Linked DNA regions of Homo sapiens: regions 1 and 3 are each reported to be linked to region 2. The links are microRNA targets in miRTarBase. Many come from high-throughput screens and were not tested one by one. Region 2 holds a microRNA gene; each other region holds the end of a gene's coding sequence. Distances are between the middles of the regions.

Region 1 (3,000 bases), not on the chromosome of region 2:
GGGCAGAAGATGGGCAGTCGGCATCAAGGCACCCTGAGCCCGTGCCCGAAGAGGGCTCGGAGGATGAGCTACCCCCTCAGGTGCACAAGGTAAGGGCCCCGGGGCCTAGGAAAAACTGCCAGAAATAGTAACTTCCAGGGTGAGGTAACAGCTTTTCAGGGGAAGGAAGATATGCCCCACCCCCACACAGAGATACTGTACCCTCCCTTCCAAAACACACTACCCCTTCTTTTCTCAACTGCTCTGCAGGGCTTGGTTTTTCCTTACCTTACCTCCCCAGGAATCAACCTTTCCTGTCCCTTTACCTCTAGGTTTCTATGGGGCTAGCAGGTATCAACCAGAAGCTGAAGACTATCTCCATTACCAACCCTTTCTCCCCACAGGTATAGACAAGGCTGAGCAGGGTTCCTGTGGCCCAGGATGGAGGCCACCGCTGCCCTGCCATCCCGTCTGCCTGCCATGGGACGGCTCCTCTGAGTGTTCCCTGGCCCCACGTGTGTGGTGTTTGTGTGTCTGTGCCTGGCCAAGGGAGGTGCCAACACTGGGCTTGCCACAGCCCCAGGAGAGGAATTTGGGGCCTAGGAACCGAGGGCACACGGGACTCTAGCCTCATCCCCAGGACCCCCTTGGCTCAGAGTGTGGTGCTAGAAACTGGCCCCCAGCCCAGCCCCAGTACTGCCACCTTTACACCTACCCCTGCAAGTCCCCAGAGGGCTGCCCACGATAGAAGCTGCCAAGCAGGGAGAACCTGTGCCAACTGTGGAGTGGGGAGGTTGGGCCTGGACCCTCAACCCCTGCAACCTTCCCTAGCCCCCTCAATAGATGAGCAGGTCAGGCTGTGGCCCTTACCTCACCCGCAGTTCTCGCCCAGTGCTGCAGCCGGCTCACCTCTCTCCGCTTCTTGCACATCACTGGCCTGTGTGTGCTGCTTGCTCCTGTTCTGTTCGCTTGCTCCCGTTCCGTTCGGCTTTTGCTTTGCGTTAGGGTGAAGACCCTAGCGTCCAGCTCCCCTCAACGCTATATTTTGACACTAAAAAAGAAGGTTTCTAAATTGTAGGAGCAGGATGGAAATACTTTGCTGCCCTTGCCATCTTTTAGGATGGGCCCCCAGGAGACTGAGGTCTTCCTGGGCCCTCATTGCTGCTTATCGTACCCCCCATCACCTGCACATGGGACAGACCGGGCTGGAGGGTGACCTTGGCTGTGTGCGTCCCAGCAAAAGAGCTCTGGCCCGCATCTCGCTGTGCCCTGAAGGGGGATGAAGGGCGATGCCTCGCCCGAGGCTTTGGGCTGCTGCACTGCATGCTGGGACTGCTCCTACTCTCTGTCCCACCCCTCACCCAGCTGTGGTCCGGCTTTGGGAGAGTGGTGAATTGCGCTGCCCGAACTCGGAGCGGAGCAGGGTAGGGACCGTGTACAGCTTGATAACCCTTAATAAAAAGGGAGTTTGACCAGACTTCTTGTTGTCTCGCGCGGCTAGAATCCTGGGAACAAGAGAAATGGGATGGGGACTCTGCCGGGGTCTAGAAGAAAGTATGTTTAGGCCGTCGCTCAGATACGCTGAGCAAGGCGGCTGGCGGAAGGGCAGCTTCCGACCCACAGTTCCGTGGAGGTCTGTGTCCTGCCCCGAGCCAGGATTCCGTGAGGTCTGTTTCCAGCCCCGAGCCACGATTCCGTGGAGGTTTCCAGCTCGGCCTGGTCGTCAGATTTCCCGCCCTGGGCACGTGACCAAGCCGGCTCTGCTTCTCTAATTTGCATTCGTTGCCTGCACCATTCCCCCCGCTCCCCCCTCGGAGACATTTGGCCAATGGGAGCCGTGGGTAGGGGCTGTGGGCGGGGCTACAGCCGTGGAGCGCGGTGCGAGTCCAACACCGAGCATTCCCGTGGGCCTGCAGTTGGCAGGAGGGTCCCGGGCCCAGAGCCAGCGGGGCCGTGCTGAGACGGCGTACGTGCCCTGCGTGAGTGCGTGGCGGCGGCGCGTGCGCTAGGGGAGTGGGCGGTGAGGCCTGGTCCACGTGCGTCCCTTCCCGGGACCCCCGCAGCTTGGCGCCCAGCGGCTACGTGAGCCAAGGCACCCGGATGTCCGCGCCCCTCTCCGAGTGACCAGTCCCGGCCTCCGGTCCCGCAGTGCCCGCAGCCTCGGCCGGCGTCCACGCATTGCCATGGTGACTGTGGGCAACTACTGCGAGGCCGAAGGGCCCGTGGGTCCGGCCTGGATGCAGGATGGCCTGAGTCCCTGCTTCTTCTTCACGCTCGTGCCCTCGACGCGGATGGCTCTGGGGACTCTGGCCTTGGTGCTGGCTCTTCCCTGCAGACGCCGGGAGCGGCCCGCTGGTGCTGATTCGCTGTCTTGGGGGGCCGGCCCTCGCATCTCTCCCTACGTGCTGCAGCTGCTTCTGGCCACACTTCAGGCGGCGCTGCCCCTGGCCGGCCTGGCTGGCCGGGTGGGCACTGCCCGGGGGGCCCCACTGCCAAGCTATCTACTTCTGGCCTCCGTGCTGGAGAGTCTGGCCGGCGCCTGTGGCCTGTGGCTGCTTGTCGTGGAGCGGAGCCAGGCACGGCAGCGTCTGGCAATGGGCATCTGGATCAAGTTCAGGCACAGCCCTGGTCTCCTGCTCCTCTGGACTGTGGCGTTTGCAGCTGAGAACTTGGCCCTGGTGTCTTGGAACAGCCCACAGTGGTGGTGGGCAAGGGCAGACTTGGGCCAGCAGGTGAGGGACTCTGTGGGAAGGGGGAAGCCTCTGCTGGCCGGGCTTGGGAGAAAGCACTGCATGTCCAGTCACACTGCTTCCAGGCTTTAGGATGCCTCTAAGCAAAGGGAGAAGGGAGGGGCTGAGTCCTGCCGGGAGCTGATAGCCAGCTGGTGGGGTGTGTCTTTGCTGAGTCACTGTGGTTTTGCTTTTTTTTTTTTTTTTAAGCCTGTAAGTGCTGAATGTGTTCATGACACCAGTCCCCGGCCCTATTATAAGTAGTAATACAATGAAATTTTATCCTCAATGA
Region 2 (8,088 bases):
AAGGTCCAGCCAGCAGCACTGGCATCCAAGGTCACAGAGTGAGGGCCTGGCACAGCCAGAACCAGAGCCAGATCTGCCGGCCGCTGGCCACCCAATTAGTCCTGGGCCACCATCTGTGCACGGGCACTCATCTGCCCATGCCACCCTCTGTCCCTACATTCAAGGAGAACAGCCACCTCTTGCCTCCCCAGCTATCATGACCCTGGCCAGGCCAGGGAGTTGGGGTTGCGCAGCACCTTGGGAACACTGAGGGAAGCAAGGGTGAGGCTGTGAGCAGACGGGCAAGCGGGTGAATCACCGCGGAGGGCAGCACGCCGGGGGTGGCGGCAACAGTCGGAAAATTCCACATGGGACCATAGACCGGGCTGTGGTGACTCAGGTGGTGGGCTACCCCATGGAGACTGCGGGAGTCAGGAAGTCCGTCCCCACTCCCTACATACACACCAGACTGGGTCCCAGGGCCAGTCCTGGAGAGAGGAGCCCACAGCATCTCCCCTCCCCCGGCACAACCCAGGAGGAAGCAGGGAATGTCCACTAGAGACCATGGTGTTGGCCCCACATCCCCAGCATCCACAAAGCTGCAGAGACCACAGGATTCTGGAGTAAGCAGGAGGGATGGTAGCCAGGGCTGGACCTCAGGTTGGACAAATGTTTAGTGAGCTCACCCAGGGGAGGGGAGGTCACCCAGAGGAGGCAAGATTACCTGGGGGAGGTGAGATCACCCAGGGGAGGTGAGATCACCCAGGGGAGGCGAGATTACCTAGGGGAGGTAAGGTCACCCAGGGGAGGTGAGGTCACCCAGGGGAGGTGAGATCACCCAGGGAAAGCTAAATCACTCAGGGGAGGTGAGATTACCAGGGGTAGGGAAGATCACACAGAGAAACTGAGATCACTCAGGGAGGACAGATCACCCAGGTAAGGTGAGATTACCTGGGGTGGGGGGCAGTGAGCATGTGCTTCATTTGCACCTCAACCTGCCTATTTCCTCCTTGCCTCCTGTTTTAACTTCTGGAGGAGTCCCAGCCACAGACAGCCAGGAATGAAATGTGGCCAAGGCATATTTTAGTTCAAAAGAAGGAAGAATATTCCCACAGGGAAAAGAGCTACCTTGGAATGGCAGGACTTCCCTGTCACTAGAGAATGATCATCTGTCAGAAATGCTGATGGATGGGAAGTGACAAGAACAGATATTTACATGTAGCGGCCAAGATTCATGGTTTTACAACTAGAGCATGTCCTGTGAGGGACAATATGGGAGAGTATTTGATGTCAACTCCACTGTTATGTGTGCGCTCATCCATTCACCCACTCATCCATCCATCTACTCATCCATCCATCTCTCTGTCCATCTCTCCATTCATCCATCAGTTCATCCATCCATTTTACCCATCCACCCACCCATCTATTCATCCATCCATTTATCCACTCATCCATGCATCCGTCCATCCACCCATCCACTCATCCATCCATTCATCCATCCATTCATCCATCCATCCATCCACTCATCCATCCATCCACCCATCCATTCACCCATCCATCTATTCATCCATCCATCTATCCATCCACCCATCCATCCACTCATCAATCCATCCATCCATCCATCCATCCATCCGTTCACCCATCCATCTATTCATCCATCTATCCATCCACCCATCCATCCATCCACTCATCAATCCATCCATCCATCCATCCATTCACCCATCCATCTATTCATCCATCCATCTATCCATCCACCCATCCATCCATCCACCCATCCACTCATCCACTCATCCACCAATCCATCCATCCATCCATCCATCCATCCATCCATCCATCCATCCACCCACCCATCCACCCATCCACCCATCTATCCATCCATCCATCCATTCACTTATCCATCTATTCACCTATCCATCCATCCATTTACCCATCCATTCATCCATCCATCCAACCATTCATCTATTTATCTATCCATTATCCATCTATCCATCCATTCATCCATGCATCTATCCATCCACCCATCCATCCATCCACCCATCTATCCATCCATCCATTCATTCATCCATCTGTCTATCCATCTGTCTCTCCATCCTTCCATATATTTATTCAATAAATCTGTACTGAATTCAGACACTTTGAAGGTGCTGGGGATTCAGCATTAACAAAGTCCCTGCTCTTATGATGATCATGTTTCAAGTGTGGGAACAAACACATAAATAAATAAAGGTCAGATGATGGAAAATATGACAGAAAATATAAATCAGGGTAAAGGCATATGGAGTTCTGGAGGGGATTGATATTTTACGTATGATAGCCTCATGGAAATAAGTAATTCTTTCCTTGGGTCTTTATATATGAAAGCCTCATGGAAAGAAGTAATTCTTTTCTTATTTGAAAAGAGATGAGAGAAATGGGAGGAAGTGTTCCTGGAAGAGAGTGCAAAATTCCTGATTTAGTAGTGTCTACTCACACATCCGTCTTTCTAATAGTTTACTCAGCACGGATTCAATTGTCTATTGATTCATTATCTATCTATCTTTCTACTCATCTCTTGTTATATCCACCCACGTATCCATCTATTCATCTATTATCCATATCCATCCATATGTCTACTTCTCCTGACATCCTTCTATTAATCTTTCCAATCATTTATATGTCCATATTCCAGCCATCCAATCATCCACCCATACATAATTCCATCTCATGTGTCCTTCCATCAATACATTCATTTACCCATTTATACACCCATTCATCCATCATCCATTCATCCATAAATCCACTCATCTTTTGTTTTGGTACATTTGCTCATTTAGCTGTTGGGCTGATGATCAGCCAATATGCACAGGTACAACACAGTTCAATATAGGAATATATATAATCAGCACCCATTCCAGTAGATTCATATTTGTACCACATGCTTTGTTAAATATTCTAAATATCACATCTGCATTTATCTATCCACCCATCCATTCGTTCTTTCATCCAAACATCCATATATACATACAGATGTTCTTCTGTCCATCCATCTATTTTTTGTTCATCTGCTCATTTGTTCATCCATTCATCAATTACTAAATAATTCTTTCTATTTATGCATGAGTTATACTCTATTTATACATGAGTCCATCCAACCCATTCATTCATCCACCCCATCCATCTGCCCATCCATTCACCCACCTGTCCATCGATCCATGCACCTATCCATCCACTCATCCCTCCATCCATCCACCCATCCATCCATCATTCAATTATCCATCCATCCATCATTCAATTATCCATCCATCCATCCATCCATTTGTTCCTACTTCCTATCATTCTTCATTCATCTTTCCATTCATTCATACTGTTCTCCATAATTGATTCTTTTCTAATCTTTATTTTTCCTTTCTTATGCAACTAAGACATGGTTCATAAGCTCATGGCCCAAGGATAAAGCAGACCACCATGGCCCAGGAGGCTGAACACCTCAATAGAGCCTAAGCAGGGGCTACAGGGGCAGGGATCTGTCTTCATATTGACACATTCTCATCATCCCCGACACATACCTGCGAATGTATGTTCACAGAGCAGCATCCCAGTGAAAGGTGCTTTGAGCACTGAGAGAGCCCATGGGGACAGGGGAGGTCAGGGTGGTGGCCTCATTGGCTCCCGAGTGATCCCTGGTGGATAAATGTCTGTGATTTAAAGAGGAGGCAGCCTCCAAATGCTTGCAGCATGCATCTGTTCAGTGTGGCCCTCTGTTCAAGCAGGCACTGCTGACAGCAGGAGAATGGGCCAGAGCCACGGGTAGGGGGCAGGGTGGTGGGTCATGGGTGCTGGGGGCTGGGGGCTGGGGGCTGGGGGCTGGAGGCTGGGTGGTGAATGGTGGGTGCTGGGTGGTGGTGATGAAGCTCAGATTTTGGTTGGGACTGGGTCTAAGAGAAAGGCTAAAGGATTATTTCTAGATTCATCTGGAACGAATTGGCTAGATCCTTCTATCCCAAGTCCCATTGCTTTTCTGAGGGGAGGTACCTGGGACAGGAGGAGGAGGCAGCCTTGCCTCAGAAACCAAACTGTCAAAAGTGTAGGTTCCACTCAGGAAGGAGGAGCACAGGCACTTTTGAGATGAGGGGGACGTGCTCTTCTCTGGAGCAGAAAGAAGCAGTAGGTGAGGTCCCACCTGCCAGGGATGGAGCAGGAGAGTGACCCCTGCATAACCTTGAATCCTCATCTGCAGCCCATGAGCAGCTGGAGACTGGGGACTCTGGGAAGGGTACTGGGCTTAGAAGCCACCCCCTGCCCCAGTGGACAGAGTATCCTGGACACCTCAGCCACTCTCCCTGAGCGTGTGGTGTGTGTAGAGGCCCCTGCGTCTATACCACTGCTCCCAGGGAAACTGGGAACCCAGGAAGTATGCTGGAACCCTTCATGCTGTGACCTACAAATGCCCCACCAGAGCGGCCCTGCTCCAAGCACTGAGGTCAGGGGCCCATGTGCCTGCCTCCTCCTGCCGGGGGATACAGGGGACTCAGAGGCCCTCCCTGCCACAAACTCCCTTCCCCGACAACCCACAAGCAGCTTGGAGGCAGTTAGCAGATGGAGTTAGGATAGGACTTGCCTGGCCCCAAGAAAGGGCCAGGGGCTTTCCTCCTGCCACCCCTGCTCAGCATCTCCCTCCTCCCTTGTCTGCCTGTGTCTGGCACTGGTGGGGCCGTGCTGGGTGGGACACGGCTAGGAGGCCTGGCTTTCTCAATCCCCTAATCTCCTATCAACCCCACCCCCATGCAGCCCCTCCAACCTCTTTTCAGGTCCCTAGATGTTGGGGAGGGGATGGGGGCTGGGCCGGCTGTAGAGAGTCTAACCCTGGGGAAGGGGCCCTGCTGGGCTGCCCCCTGGCCGAGCCTCTCCAGCCCGCTCGCTTCCCTCTCTTCTAAGTATCAATACAGCCTCGTCCACAGCCAGGGCCTGGTTCTGTCTGCCTCAGCGCATGTGGAAAGCCCTCTTCGATTGCCTTATGGTCCTGGGCTGCCATCTCCCAGAAGGTCTTTAGTGGCCCCCAAAAAGATGCTGAGGGCTGGGATTTGGGCGGGGCTGGGCTGGAGGGAAGTGGAGGACCTTGCTGGTCCTGCAGCGCCCGGTCCCAGTTCCGCTTTTCGGGACGGTCCCTTTAAGTGCTTGCTGAGCTTGGGCCATGAGCAGTGCTCTGGTGCTCTTGGGAGCCTTTGAGTCCAGAGTGGCTGGTGTGTGGTGTGGGGTCAGAGAGACCCCGGGAAGGGCAGCCCAGCCCAGCTCCCTCCTGGTGCCCGCAGGTCTTGTGGGCCCTCAGCACCCGAACCCCACAGGGGCAAGGACTCAGGCCCCTCCCCAGGCAGGGAGCAGCCCTTGGACAATGCACTTGGCCCCTGTGAGCCTCGGTTTCCGTCTGTGAAATGGGAGGCTCCAGGGACCTGCCTCACAGCTCCGGGGGATGAAACAAGAGCCTTGGTTTAAAAAGCTTGGCAAAGGCAGGGCGCGGTGGTTCATGCTTGTAATCCCAGGACTTTGGGAGGCTGGGGCGGGTGGATCACCTGAGGTCAGGAGTTCAAGACCAGCCTGGCCAACATGGTGAAAGCCTCTTCTCTACTAAAAATACAAAAATTAGCCGGGGGCAGTGGCAGGTGCCTGTAATCCCAGCTACTCAGGAGGCTGAGGTGGGAGAATCTCTTGAACCTGGAGGGCGGAGGTTCCAGTGAGCCGAGATTGTGTCACTGCACTACAGTCTGGGCAACAGAGCGAGACTCTGTCTCAAATAAATAAATAAATAGCTTGGCAAAGACTGGCATGGAGTGAACGCTTGGTCTGAGTGGCTACATTCTGAGTGTGCAGATGGGGAAACTGAGGCTTCAGAGGGGTGCGGCTTACTCATCCAGAAAGCACTCCGAGGGCCTATAGCAGCCGAAGCAAGGCCAGCCCTGGGGCCTTGCAGCCCATCCCCCTCCCGCCGCCCCAGCAGTGGGATCTCAGGGGCTGGGACTGCAAGGCAGAGCTCACGCCCCCACCCCTCACCAGGCTGAGGACTCAGAGCGGGAGACCACTGGGCCCTTTCCACTGCCAACACCCTCCTCTTCTCTAGGGCTCACCCATCCCTCTGGCACGTTCTCAGGGAACTGAGGTGGAGACAGGCTGGCCCGTAGGGTAGCGGAGCAGAGGCCCACCATCCTGCCACCCCAGGGTGTCACCGGCCAGGGCCTGTCCCAGCTGGACCCCAGACCCTCCTGGCACTGCCCTTGTGTGGCTCCAGGATTGTTTTAGGAGACACGAGGGAACCAGGAAGGGGGCGCAGGAAGAAAGGATTCTGGCTTCCAGAATCAGCGGGGGTGGGGCCTGTGATGCTCCCACTTGTGCGACCAGCCCAGCTGGGTGTCGGTGGACAGCAGCGCCTGCCAGCCCACGAGGAAGAAGACATCCTTCTGCTTCCCTGGGAAACTTCCAGATGCCTCAGACCCCTTACCCAGGGCAGGAGGAAGGGGACCTCCCCAGGGATCCTGGGTCCAGACATCAGGTCTTGACCACAGGAAGGTGTAGGGAGGGAGCCCCAGGGCTTAGCCCTCAATCCTAACCTCCCTCAGCAGCCCCTGTGGGGCTAGGGCTGGGGCTGAGGTGGCTTCCCCAACTGTCCCCAGCTCTGCCCTCTTTCCTGAGCAGTCGTGGGCACCGCTGGGGGCTCTCAGGGCCACCTGCCCCAGCGTGGAGCATTGCACATCCTCCAGGTGGTGCCTGGCCTTGGCTCGGAGGGCAGGTGGGCGGGAGGGCTGCCCAAGGGCCTGGCTGCCTGGGGGGTTCCATCCCATGGGCTCCTGCTGCTCAGATGAAGACTTCCAGGGGGCTGCCGGGGGCCTCCAGCCCCTTCCTCCTTCAGAATCTGGAGCTCTGAGGGTCTCCAGGGACAGATGGCCAGAAGGAACCCTGCCAGAGCAGCCCCTCAGGTCATCCCTGCCCTTCCCAACTCAGCTCAGCACACAGAGAAGCGAGGGAGGCTCCGATGGGCCAGGCGGGGCTCCAGGACTGGCCCTGTCCATGGCAGGTGCTGCCAGAGCCCTGGGCAGCGGCCTCCCACCGCGGGCTGGGCAGGCCTTTGAAGGTCTGCAGAGGAGCAGGGCGGTTGGGTGATGCTAGGAGGGGCATGTGCCAGGGCTCTGACACCTTCCAAAACTGGGAAGAGCTGGGAAAGCTGGTGGGATGGGAAGTGAGTTCAACCAGGCCAGGAGGGCCTGGCATGGCCACCCAGGGGCATGGAGTTTGCCTGTAGCTGGTGAATGGTTCTTTCCGTGGGAGACACGGCCTGGTCGCTCATGGGGAACAGACTGGGGGTAGGGTCATCCTGATGGGGGCCTGGGCTACACAGGGGCAGACTGAGAGGGCAGCCAGGGTGTCTGTGGGACAGGGTGGCGGCAGGCAGACTTGCCTTCTAGGTGTGGACATGGGGTGGGCACGCCTGGGCGGGTGGGCACCCCCGGGCAGCTGGGCCAAGGACAGGCACTGCAGCCAAAAATGCAGTGTGACCCCAGGGAGGGTACACCCCTGCAGAGCTGGGCTCCAACATCTGGATATGTCGAACCCAAGGTCTGAGAGGGCAACCTGACCCTCCCCAGCTGTGGACCAGGACGCCCCGTCCTCATCGCCTCAAGGCCTCCAAGGCCAGATAGTTCCTCAGTGTGGGGAGAGCCTTGCTCTTGGGGGCTATAGAGGGCAGGCATCCCCCAGCGTCACCAGAGAGTCCCCCCAGAGCCACAAGGCAGCTCTGTGAAATCCTCGTCCCTGCCCCCAAGGGACAAGGACAAGCTAGTGACTGTCTGCTGGACAGCGGGGCGAGACAGGAGTGCCCCCGAGTGGAGGAACCGCAGTCCAGCCTGGCTGGTAGCCGAAGCGGAGCCTGGACCCCGCCCAGGGTCAGGGGACCTTCTTTGGCCTGAGGCCTCGTGGGAGAGGACAGTCCTGTCCTGGGGGCATCTGAGAGACCACATCATGGAGGGGTGGTTCTGAGGAATCTGGCCCCGTCCCGGGCAGTCTGAGGGGAGGGGCCACATCATGCGACAGTCTGAGGGGCTGGACCCACTTGTCCAGCTGGAGGGGCTTGGCCTGCCCTGGACC
Region 3 (3,000 bases), 71 Mb from region 2:
AAGGCAAGTGGCCTGGGCACTGAGCAGCAAGGTGGGACGTGCATACCAAGGGGCCAGGCAGTCCAACTGGGTTCCAGAGGTGCCCCTGGTTCACCCAGGGTCTCCAGTATCCACCCCCACCTGTGCCTGCCACAGGATTAGATGGTGAACGAGCCCCTCCTGTGTCCTTGTGGAGTGGCTCGGGCCTGTGGGAAAGGCTCAAGGGTGGTTTGTAACAGGCAATCATTAAGAAAGCTCAAGAGGGGCCGGGTGCGGTGGCTCATACCTGTAATCCCAGCACTTTGGGAGGCTGAGGCAGGTGGATCACTTGAGGTCAGGAGTTTGAGACCAGCCTGGCCAACATGGCGAAACCCTGTCTCTATTAAAAATACAAAAATTAGCCAGGTGTGGTGGCGCATACCTGTAATCCCAGCTACTTGGGAAACTGAGGCAGGAGAATTGCTTGAACCCGGGAGGCAGAGAGTTGCAGTGAGCCAAGACCGCAGCACTGCACTTCCAGCCTGGGTGACAGAACAAGACTTCGTCTCAAAAAGAAAAAAAAAACTCAGAAGGACATCGGCTACATTAACAGAAGTATAGAACCTAGAAGGTGAGAGGTGAATAGCTCACACTATTCTGGGCAGGTCACCCACCTGGCACAGTACAGAGTAATCATTTGGGTCATGGTCTGTGATGGGTCTCTGTCACATGAGGGCGCTGTGGAGTCAGGCTCCAAATACAGCAAGCTTTGGGGATGTCCTGCCTTTCACAAGGCAGAGTGGGAAGGGTGGAGAGGTCAGAGGGGGCAGGCAGAGTGGGCCACAGGGCGAGGGCTCTCCCAGAGGGAGAGGAGGGAGTCCCTGTCCTTGAGATCAAGAGTGAGGCCTGTCAGCTTTGCCCTGTCCCTTTCCAAAGGCTAGGGCGGGGCCCTGTCCAGCTGAGCGCCACACGTCAGCCCAGAGTGGTCCTGGCTAGACTCAGAACCTATCATAGGTGAGACCCATCTCCCCCATACTAAGTCCTGACCCAGCCTGAGCACCACCCTGCCATTCTGGGATTTTCCCAGAAGGCAGACGATGGACAGGAGGAGGAGTGAATCTCTTTCATATTTACCCCCAGTGCAAAGGAAGCCTCAGGGTCAGGGCAAGGAGGGAGCCCTAACTTGGCCTCCTTGTGACCCAGCCCCAACCCTGCCTTGAGCCTGGAGTCAGCTGTCCAGCCTGCTTATGGCTCATGCACACCCTGCCCTCTTGCCCCATGTCTTTGCCTGGGATGCATCCTGTGTGTGGATGTTCTTCCGGTGAGCTGCTTTTCTCAGAAGCTACAGCTCAGGAGTCTCCCACTCCAGGAACCCTTCCCTGACCCCCTGGCTCACAGCCCCAGCCACTCGGCATTATCCAGTGGTGTGCTAGAGTGACTTGTACCTGCTTGCAAGAACCAATTGTTAAATTTTCAGGAATTTTACAAGGAAGTTGACATCATGTTTATAGTTTGAATTTGGCCATAAGAGTTTTTGCACCATGGAAATGGGCAGTTCTACAAAGAAGGGGTTCCCAGTTAAATCGGAGCTCCAGTTAAATGGCTTAACATTTACCAGCACATGACTGGCCATCACCTAAACTGGGAAATCTCAAGGACTGGGACTGCACCTGACTTTTCTCTGTGCTCAGCACAGAGTCAGGCACAGAAGCCAACTGGCTTTACAGTGGGGGATGACCTGGGGCCTGGAGAGAGGATCCCTGATATGAGACTACTCCTGAGACAGCTAGTGAGAAGGCAGGTGGCAGAAGGGAACGGATTGGAGAAAGGACCCTTGTGTGGCTGGTGAAAGCTTCCCTGCCATATCCTCATCCCCCGACCACACAATAGGGCACAGCTCAGCAGGCAACACAACCTTTAGTATAAGTTACAGCCTCACACTGGCTCCTAGCCCATGGGAGCCTCCAGATGGGTCTATGATATTAGTCCCCAGATGTTCATCTCTTGGGCTGGGGGTACTCCTCAGAGCTAAGTCCACCGTGGCACCCAGTCCATTCCAGACCACTGTGCAAACTCAGCCCTCATTACTTACCAGGGTTTTCTGGCCAACCTGTGACTTGGCCCCCACCCCAGGTAGCTCAGCTCCAGACTCTGGTATGTGATCTTGGTAAGCCACCTTCCTCTCTGGGCCTGTTTCTCCATTTGACTTGATTAGGCTGGACTCCAACCTAGGTACCTTGGCAGTACAGCCAGCTACTTGCATGGGAGTCAGGCCAGGGGTGTCATTGACCTTGAGCTCTTGCCTTTCTTGAAACTTAATTCCCCCAACTTATACACACAAACGATGACTAGGGGTTATGGGAACAGTTGACTCTGGACCACAGAGTGAATATCCTGAGCCCCTGTCAAATGACGGAGCATGGGGTCATCCAGCATGAGTCACTGATGGTCCATATCTGGGGAGACTGTGGCGTCTGCACAAGTCCTGGTCCTCTACAGCTTCCCAATATAAACCTGCACAGGCTGAAGTGTTCTGCTCCTACAGCCGAATGTCCTTAGTGTTCTCGCTACCAGCCGGCGTGGACTCTGTCCGCCTAGAGTCCTCACTGCTGCCCAACACATCTTCTATCCTCTGCATGTCAGTTCTGTCGGATCTGCGCAGGCCCAGCCTGCGGCGAGCCGGGGTGGCAGGGCTGGGGCCAGTGGGTGGCTTGGCATCTCGGGCAAAGCGTACGAGCCTCTGCCCAGCCAGGAAGTAGAGCACGGGGTCAAGGCAACTGTTAGCACTGGCCAGCGGCCGGGTAACCTTGTAGGCCATGTTGATGGCGTTGAGGGTGTGGCAGCTGAGGTCCAGCGAGCGGAAGGAGTAGTAGAGGGTGCGGGTGACGTGGAATGGCAGGAAGCAGAGGGCGAAGACAGCCAGCACCACGGCGATGGTGCGCACGGACTTGCGCTTGGCCCTAGGCAGGCCGCCCGAGGTCCCGTAGGCTGGCTTTAGCAGTCGCCGAGCCATGAGCACGTAACAGACAAGGATGACGGCAA

The links. The annotated mature microRNA hsa-miR-4298 reads CUGGGACAGGAGGAGGAGGCAG and lies in region 2 at 3,991-4,012, shown strand. An mRNA with a match to its seed (bases 2 to 7 or 8) in the 3' UTR can be bound and repressed. Matches are read on the target gene's strand: a 7mer-m8 pairs with bases 2 to 8, a 7mer-A1 pairs with bases 2 to 7 and ends in A, and an 8mer does both.
Region 1: miRTarBase lists ATG9A as a target of hsa-miR-4298. Seed matches in the 3' UTR shown: 7mer-m8 at 1,326-1,332.
Region 3: the mRNA of P2RY2 is a reported target of hsa-miR-4298. The part of its 3' UTR that is shown has no 7-base or 8-base seed match.

The regions. Positions count from the first base shown.
Region 1 is chr2:219,217,836-219,220,835 of GRCh38, reverse strand. ATG9A (autophagy related 9A) reads left to right here. Exons shown (of 16, transcript NM_001077198.3): 15 at 1-89; 16 at 384-1,456. The coding sequence ends at 389. ABCB6 (ATP binding cassette subfamily B member 6 (LAN blood group)) reads left to right here and starts at 1,878. Exons shown (of 19, transcript NM_005689.4): 1 at 1,878-2,711. The coding sequence starts at 2,163. RefSeq lists a silencer at 2,439-2,548 and an enhancer at 1,794-2,661.
Region 2 is chr11:1,855,429-1,863,516 of GRCh38, reverse strand. MIR4298 (microRNA 4298) reads left to right here and starts at 3,981; the gene lies at 3,981-4,053. The region is part of intron 1 of LSP1 (lymphocyte specific protein 1); the gene reads right to left. RefSeq lists an enhancer at 8,062-8,088.
Region 3 is chr11:73,234,791-73,237,790 of GRCh38, reverse strand. P2RY2 (purinergic receptor P2Y2) reads right to left here. Exons shown (of 3, transcript NM_002564.4): 3 at 1-3,000. The coding sequence ends at 2,498. Among named protein-coding and RNA genes, the nearest start is that of P2RY2, 18 kb to the right of the region's middle. RefSeq lists an enhancer at 533-582.